Homo sapiens: one gene and its partner. The gene in region 2 interacts genetically with the main gene of each other region. Each region holds a gene or a part of one and is shown on either strand. Other genes may lie near its edges.

The links. A genetic interaction does not mean that the proteins touch.
Region 1: changes in PKLR (region 2) and MAPK12 together harm fitness more than expected from each alone (negative genetic interaction), as found in Homo sapiens cells (one large-scale study listed by BioGRID).

Annotation. Positions count from the first base shown.
Region 1 is NC_000022.11:50,255,513-50,258,802, forward strand, and holds part of MAPK12 (mitogen-activated protein kinase 12), read right to left. Parts: intron 2,790-3,290; coding exon 2,731-2,789; intron 1,682-2,730; coding exon 1,570-1,681; intron 1,453-1,569; coding exon 1,423-1,452; intron 1,135-1,422; coding exon 1,087-1,134; intron 688-1,086; coding exon 573-687; intron 370-572; coding exon 298-369; intron 183-297; coding exon 103-182; intron 20-102; coding exon 1-19. UniProt on the Homo sapiens protein: Serine/threonine kinase which acts as an essential component of the MAP kinase signal transduction pathway.
Region 2 is NC_000001.11:155,294,939-155,298,587, reverse strand, and holds part of PKLR (pyruvate kinase PKLR), read left to right. Parts: intron 1-2,831; coding exon 2,832-2,923; intron 2,924-3,019; coding exon 3,020-3,151; intron 3,152-3,285; coding exon 3,286-3,472; intron 3,473-3,649. UniProt on the Homo sapiens protein: Pyruvate kinase that catalyzes the conversion of phosphoenolpyruvate to pyruvate with the synthesis of ATP, and which plays a key role in glycolysis.

The DNA of each region.
Region 1 (3,290 bases), on a different chromosome or scaffold from region 2:
CCTTCATGTAGTTCTTGGCCTGTGTGGGAAGAAAGGGTGAGGGGCCAACACCAAGGCCCAGGTCCGCCCCCACCCCCACCCAGCTCCCCACTCACCCCTTACCTCATCGCTCTGCAGCCGCTGCACAAACTCAGCCGGAGGCGTCCCCGTCACCTTCATGATCTCCTTCAGCTGGTCCAGGTCTGCACCGAGGTCAGGAACACAGCTCGGGGGCCAGAGATCAGGGCCCCCACTGCCCCCACCTGGGCAGGAGCCATCCCCACCCGCCCCTGGTGCCGCCCTGCGGCTGGAGGATACGGTCGCTGCCCTTGAACAGCGTCTTGCCTGTGATCATCTCCGCCATGATGCAGCCCACAGACCAGATGTCCACTGAGATAGAAGCCCTGGTCAGCTCCGTGGGCAGGGGGACAGGATGAGACGGGGAGGGAGGAGACACCAACACAGCCCACCTGCCCGGCTCCCACCCCAGCTCAACAGCCTCCCTGGGAGCAGCCACCACAGGGCTGTCCGTGAAGAAGTGGAGAAGCAGATGGTGCAGCCTGAGAGGCCCAGATCTCTGGGCAGCTTCTCACCCGTCTGCGTGTAGCGCATCCAATTCAAGATGACCTCGGGAGCCCGGTACCACCGGGTCACCACGTACCCAGTCATCTCACTGTCTGCCTGCCTGGCCAGGCCGAAGTCCAGGATCTGTGGGAAGAATTGGGGAGGTGGGTTCTAGGGGACTCCCAAGGAGCGGACAGGCCACCCACGGTCCAGGAGACCCCGGGGGGTTGGACTTGAAGCTCCCAAGCTGGGGCCTCCTGACAACCTTCAAGGACTTGAGGCCACGCCCTCGGACCCCAAACTGCCCCGAGCTCCTCCCTCTGGCCAGTGCACCAAGCCCAGCAGCCCTCGGGACGGAGCAGGTGCCCTGGGTACGGCATGTTGTGTACCACTGCCTCTTGGGCTCACCCACCCACCAGCTCCTCAGCCACTGCCCAGAGCCTGGGACCTTGGCCCCCTGCCCAGGCCTGACAGGTGGATAGATGGGCAGATCCAGAGGGGGCCCCTGCCCCACCTCAGGGCCCCCTGCCAGGCAGCACACACCTTCAGCTCACAGTCTTCGTTCACAGCCAGGTTGCCGGGCTTCAGGTCCTGGGGGCAGAGGAAAGGTGGCCACTGTGCCCCACCCTCCCAAGCATGGGCACAGCCAAGAGCCTGGGTGGCACCTAAAGATGGGGCCACCGGACCTGGCCCCCTTGCTCTCTGCAGCCCTTCAAGGGCAGACCAAGGTACCTGGGCACCCAGGCAGGTTCCCACCAGGGGCTGTGCATAGGGCGTGGCTCAGCACCCAGACCCCATCACATCCTCACAGGTGGGACGTGGAGGCGGGGGGATTGCACTGGGGGAGGGCTGATGAGCGGCTTCTCCACCGGGACTCACTCTGTGGATGATGCCGGCAGCGTGGATATACTGCGGGGGGCAGAGGATTTGGCAGGCTTCAGCGCACCCTCTCAGAGCCACAGGGCCCTCCTCTGCCCAGCCCCGAGGCCCTGCCTGCCTCCCTGCAGCCTCCCCCGGGGCCCGTACCCTCAGCCCCTTCAGCATCTGGTACACGAGGAACTGGATCCGGTCCTCGCCTAGCTTCTCATGTTTCATGAGCTTGCCCAGGTCGGTGCCCATGAACGGCATCACCAGGTAACTGTGGGAGGGGCCGGAGCGCTGTCAGCGGACAGAGCCAGCCTCTGCATCCCAGAGACCCACCCAGCAGGCCCAGGCTCAGACCCGTCCCGGATCCAACAGGCACCCCCAGGAAGGTCACCCCTGCAGCACACATCCACACTGGCCTCGGTGTCCTCGCAGCCCCACCTTGCAGTGCCAGGCTCCATCCTCCCGCAACTGTTACTGCCAGCAGCGCTCACACCCCCCTCCCACCCTGAGGACTGTCAGGCAGGGAGGAGGCTGCCTTGGGGTTTTTGAACCCTCCGCTGAAGCGCCCTGCGTGCCAGGCTAGGGGCTGAGGCTCCATGGTAGAGGCAGCAGGACTCGAGTCTTCACAGGCAGGGGAGGGAGGCAGTCAGGTTTCAACTTCACAACTTTGTGCCAGAAATGAGGGAGGTGCCTGGGGGCGATGGGGGCGCGGCAAGGCATCTGGGTCAGAGGGGTCGGCTGGGCCGGTGGAGACAGACACAGGAGAATGGTATTTAGCACCTTCCCAGAGGCCACTGACTTGACCTCTGCAAGTCAGGCGGGAGGCGCCTGCTACCCTCTCCAGGCCTTCCTCGGCCTGGCCCTTCACTCTTGGCCGACAGGGTGTGAGTCCCAGGGTGGTCGGCTGCAGGGCAGGGGCAGGGTGGGTCCTCCCTACCGCTTCTCCCCCACCCGCTGGAAAAGGTCAGCAGCTCCAGTTACCGGCCACACACTTGGTGCCAGGGTCCCGAGCACGGGACCTTCCTGTTAACAAATGGTCAGGTCCAAGGTTCACACCTCCGGTGCTGGAGAGGGCCCAGGTGCCAGGCGTGGAGAGAGGCAGCAGCCCCAGCTCTGCCCAGCTGTGCCAGTGCCCGTGGGTCCCAGGACCATGTGGGGGAGGGCGTGGGGTGGACAGTGGTATGGGGAGGGGGTGGGCGGTGTGCATCCCCCACTCAGGCTGCAGGAAGAGAACCCCATTGCCAACCTAGAACCTGAAGCCAGTGCCCAGAGCTGCCCAACACCCCTCGTGCCCAGCGGCCAGCCCAGGTCGGCACTCACAAGTCCGTGAAGTCATCCAGGGTCTCATCAGGAGTGAATACGTCCAGCAGCCCGATCACCTGGGGGGGCCACATAGGGTTGAGAATGCAGCAGAGGACACGGGCTGGGGCACCCCCCAAGAGTGGCACAACCCTCTGGGCAGGAAACCCCCTCTGCAGCTGTCATTGTCATGCCCCACTGTCCAAAGGGCCTGGCTCTGCCCACTGGCAGTGTGGCCCAGCCCTGGCACACATACCCACTGGCAGTGTGGCCCAGCCCTGGCACACATACCCACAGAAAGGTTATTTTTGGACGGTGACAACCGGGATCTTCTGGGGGAGGGGCAACCCGGAGTCTGGGATGGCTCCGAACCATCCAAAGGGCTCCTGCCGCCTGACCCTTTCACCCCTCTTCACCCCAACCAAACAGATCCAGGCCCAGGGTGGGGACAGCGCTATGGAAAGAGGCCAGGCCTCTGCTGGTGAGGCCCAGGCGGACAGCACCGTGACCCACCAGACCTGGTCCCCTCAGCACCCCTGGTTGGGGAGATAGACAGTAGACAGGTCATGTGACAACTGCCG
Region 2 (3,649 bases):
TGGGAGGCCGAGGCGGGCGGATCACCTGAGGTCAGGAGTTCGAGACCAGCCTCAACATGGAGAAACCCCGTCTCTACTAAAAATACAAAAAATTATCCGGGCATGGTGGTGCATGCCTGTAATCCCAGCTACTCAGGAGGCTAAGGCAGGAGAATTGCTTGAACCTGGGAGGCGGAGGTTGCGGTGAGCCAAGATCGTGCCATTGCACCCCAGCCTGGGCAACAAGAGCGAAACTCCGTCTCAAAAAAAAAAAAGGCCAGGCGTGGTGTTTCATGCCTGTAATCCCAGCACTTTGGGAGGCCGAGGCAGACTGATCACGAGGTCAAGAGATCGATACCATCCTGGCCAACATGGTGAAACCCCGTCTCTAATAAAAATACAAAAATTAGCTGGGCGTGGTGGCACATGCCTGTAGTCCCAGCTACTCGGAAGGCTGAGGCAGGAGAATCACTTGAACTGGAAGGCAGGGAGCAGAGATCGCACCTCTGTCCTCCAGCCTGGTGACAGAGCGAGATTCCATCTAAAAAAAAAAGAAAAGAAAAGAAAGAAAAAGTGAAAGTTTTAAGTGCTATGGGGAAAGAAATCAAGTGTGATAAGGGCATCAGGAGTACGAGGGTGAAGACAGGTTGCAGCCCTAAATAGGGAGGTCAGTTATTATTGAGTAAATGAGACCAAAGGGAAGACTTGAAGGAGATGAGAGAATTAGCCATGCAGAGACCTGGGGGAAGAGAATTCCAGGAAGAAGGATCAGTCAGTGTCAAGGCCTAAGTCAAGAAGGTTAGAAGAGCTAGAAACCATCAAGGGGGAAGAGCGGCAGACATGAAGAGACTGTGTACGGACAGGAAGATCAGGTGCAGCTTTGTAGGCCATTTTTAGAATTTGAGTTGCGTTTTCCTCCGAGTGAAATGAGAAACTGCTGCAGGGTTTTGAGCAGGGGAATGACAAGCTCTTATTTATGTTTTAATAGAGCCTCCCCTCCCCTGCTGCTGCACTGAAAATAGATGGGGGGTGGGGGGAAGGGTGCCCCTGCAGTATTTCTGGCTCAGACCAGTTGGCGGCAGTGAGGTGGTGAGAAGTGGTCAGATTCTGAATGTATTTTGCAGGTAGAGCTGACAGGATTTGCTAATTGATCGGATATGGGGTATGGAGTGTGGGCGAGAAAGAAAGGAGTCAAAGGTGACAGGTGACTCTGAGGTTTTTGCCATAAGGAACTGGAACGATGCATTAGCCACTGAGCAGGAAAGACTGTGGTGGAAGGGGTTGGGGGGAGAGCAGAAGTTTGCTTGGGACATGTTGAGTCTGAGATGCTTATTAGCCATCCAAATGTGATAGAGGGGGCAGTCAGGTACACAACTCTGGGTTTGGGAGAAAGGTCTGGATTGGAGAGACATTTGGGAGTTGGCTACATATAGATGGTATCTCAAGCCATGAGACTAGTTGAGACCACCAAAGGAGTGTAGGTGAAATGACGGAGAAGAGAACAGGGTATCTAACGTTAAGGGGAGGAACAAGGAAAGGAGACTGGGAAAGAGCAGCTAGTGAGGTAGGAGTCAACCAAGAGAGGGTGCAGCCCTGGAGGTCAGGTGAAGACAGTGTGTCAAAGAAGGATGTATGTTCAGGCTGCTGATGGGCCAATAGAGGAGGACTGAGCATTGAGCATTACATGGAGCAAAAACACAGAGGTTCTTGGTGACCTTGACAAGAACAGATGCAGTGGAGAGATGGAGGCCAACGCCTGAGTGGGGTGGGTTCAAGGGAGAATGGGGGAGGGGAACTAGAGGTAGCAAGTACAGATAACTCTTGCGATGAGTTTTGCTGCAAGTGAGAGCAAATACTGGGACTGAGGGGAAACCAGGAGATTAAGAGAATTTTTTTTTAATGATGAAAGAAATAACAGTAGGTTTACCTGCGGATGGGGATGATCCAGTAAAAAAGGAAAACATGGCTGGGCACGGTGACTCACACCTGTAATCCCAGCATTTTGGGAGGGCGAGGTGGATGGATCACCTGAGGTCAAGAGTTCAAGACCAACCTGGCCAGCATGGTGAAACCCCTTCTCTACTAAAAATACAAAAAAATTAGCCAGGCGTGGTGGTGCACACCTGTAATCCCAGCTACTCAGGAGGCTGAAGCAGGATAATCACTTGAACTGGGGAGGCAGAGGTTGCAGTGAGCTGAGATGGTGCCACTGCACTCCAGCCTGGGCGACAAGAGTGAAACTCCCCCCGTCTCAAAAAAAAAGAAAGAAAAAGAAAAGGAAAACATGGGTGTCACAGAGGACCACAGAATGGCTTAATTTATGTCCTTGAGCAGGTGAGAAGGAGGAGACCTAGTGCACAAGTGGAAAGACAGATAGGGACCGAAGAATGAGCCAACCTGCTCTCGGCTAGCAGCTGCCCCATAGCAGTGCAGGCATGGGATAGAACTCAGCTCTCCTCAGTCCATGAGGCCTCCTAGCTCTAAAAGCCCGCACCCAAACGCCCTCACCTGGCTCCCAGCCCCTGCCCTACACCCCATACCCTGGGGTAGCCGGGCAAGCAGCACTTACATACCCATGCCCATACAGTGCCCATACATGCCCATACAGTGACCTCAGGCCTGGCGGAGGGCACTCCCCTCCGATTTCCACACTGCTGCCTCCCCAAGGGGATGGATGTTGGCTTGAGAGGGAAGGGGAGTCTGTGATCTGTGGGCAGGGGTTGCATCAGGGAATAAAGATCAGGTAACAGGACGCCTGTGGCGTGAGGCGTTCTGAGAATGGTAATGGGTTGGGTTTGGTTGCCTCTCATGTTCTGGGGGAACGTTGTCTGAACGTGAATCTCTGGTTCTAGGGCCAGCATCTCGCTCCGTGGAGCGCCTCAAGGAGATGATCAAGGCCGGGATGAACATTGCGCGACTCAACTTCTCCCACGGCTCCCACGAGGTGCGGGACGGGCCGCCGGGCAGTGGGTGGGGCAGGAGGATGCCTCGAGGTCCTGGCCACCTTCCCCTGAAACCCTCGCTCCGCTCCCTCCCCCAGTACCATGCTGAGTCCATCGCCAACGTCCGGGAGGCGGTGGAGAGCTTTGCAGGTTCCCCACTCAGCTACCGGCCCGTGGCCATCGCCCTGGACACCAAGGGACCGGAGATCCGCACTGGGATCCTGCAGGGGGTGAGCAGTGGGGCTGGGACTCGCTGGGCCAGGGCCGGAAAGGCGGCGCCTGTAGGGTTGGGCCCAGGCGTGGGCAGGGGCGGGTCCCGGACTCCGGGGCTCAGAACTCACATCTCCTCTGGCTCCCTCCTTAGGGTCCAGAGTCGGAAGTGGAGCTGGTGAAGGGCTCCCAGGTGCTGGTGACTGTGGACCCCGCGTTCCGGACGCGGGGGAACGCGAACACCGTGTGGGTGGACTACCCCAATATTGTCCGGGTCGTGCCGGTGGGGGGCCGCATCTACATTGACGACGGGCTCATCTCCCTAGTGGTCCAGAAAATCGGTGCGGACGCGCCTCCCGCCCTGACCACATCCGTGCGCTGGGCACATTCCCTTCTCCTTGGCTCCCCCATCAGCCCTCAGACCGATCACACCTTCCCCTGGCCACGCGTTTTTGCCAGCCCGTCCCAGGAGTCCCCAGCGTGTAGACTCTGCGCTCACCCTGGGTTTGGGCTGGACT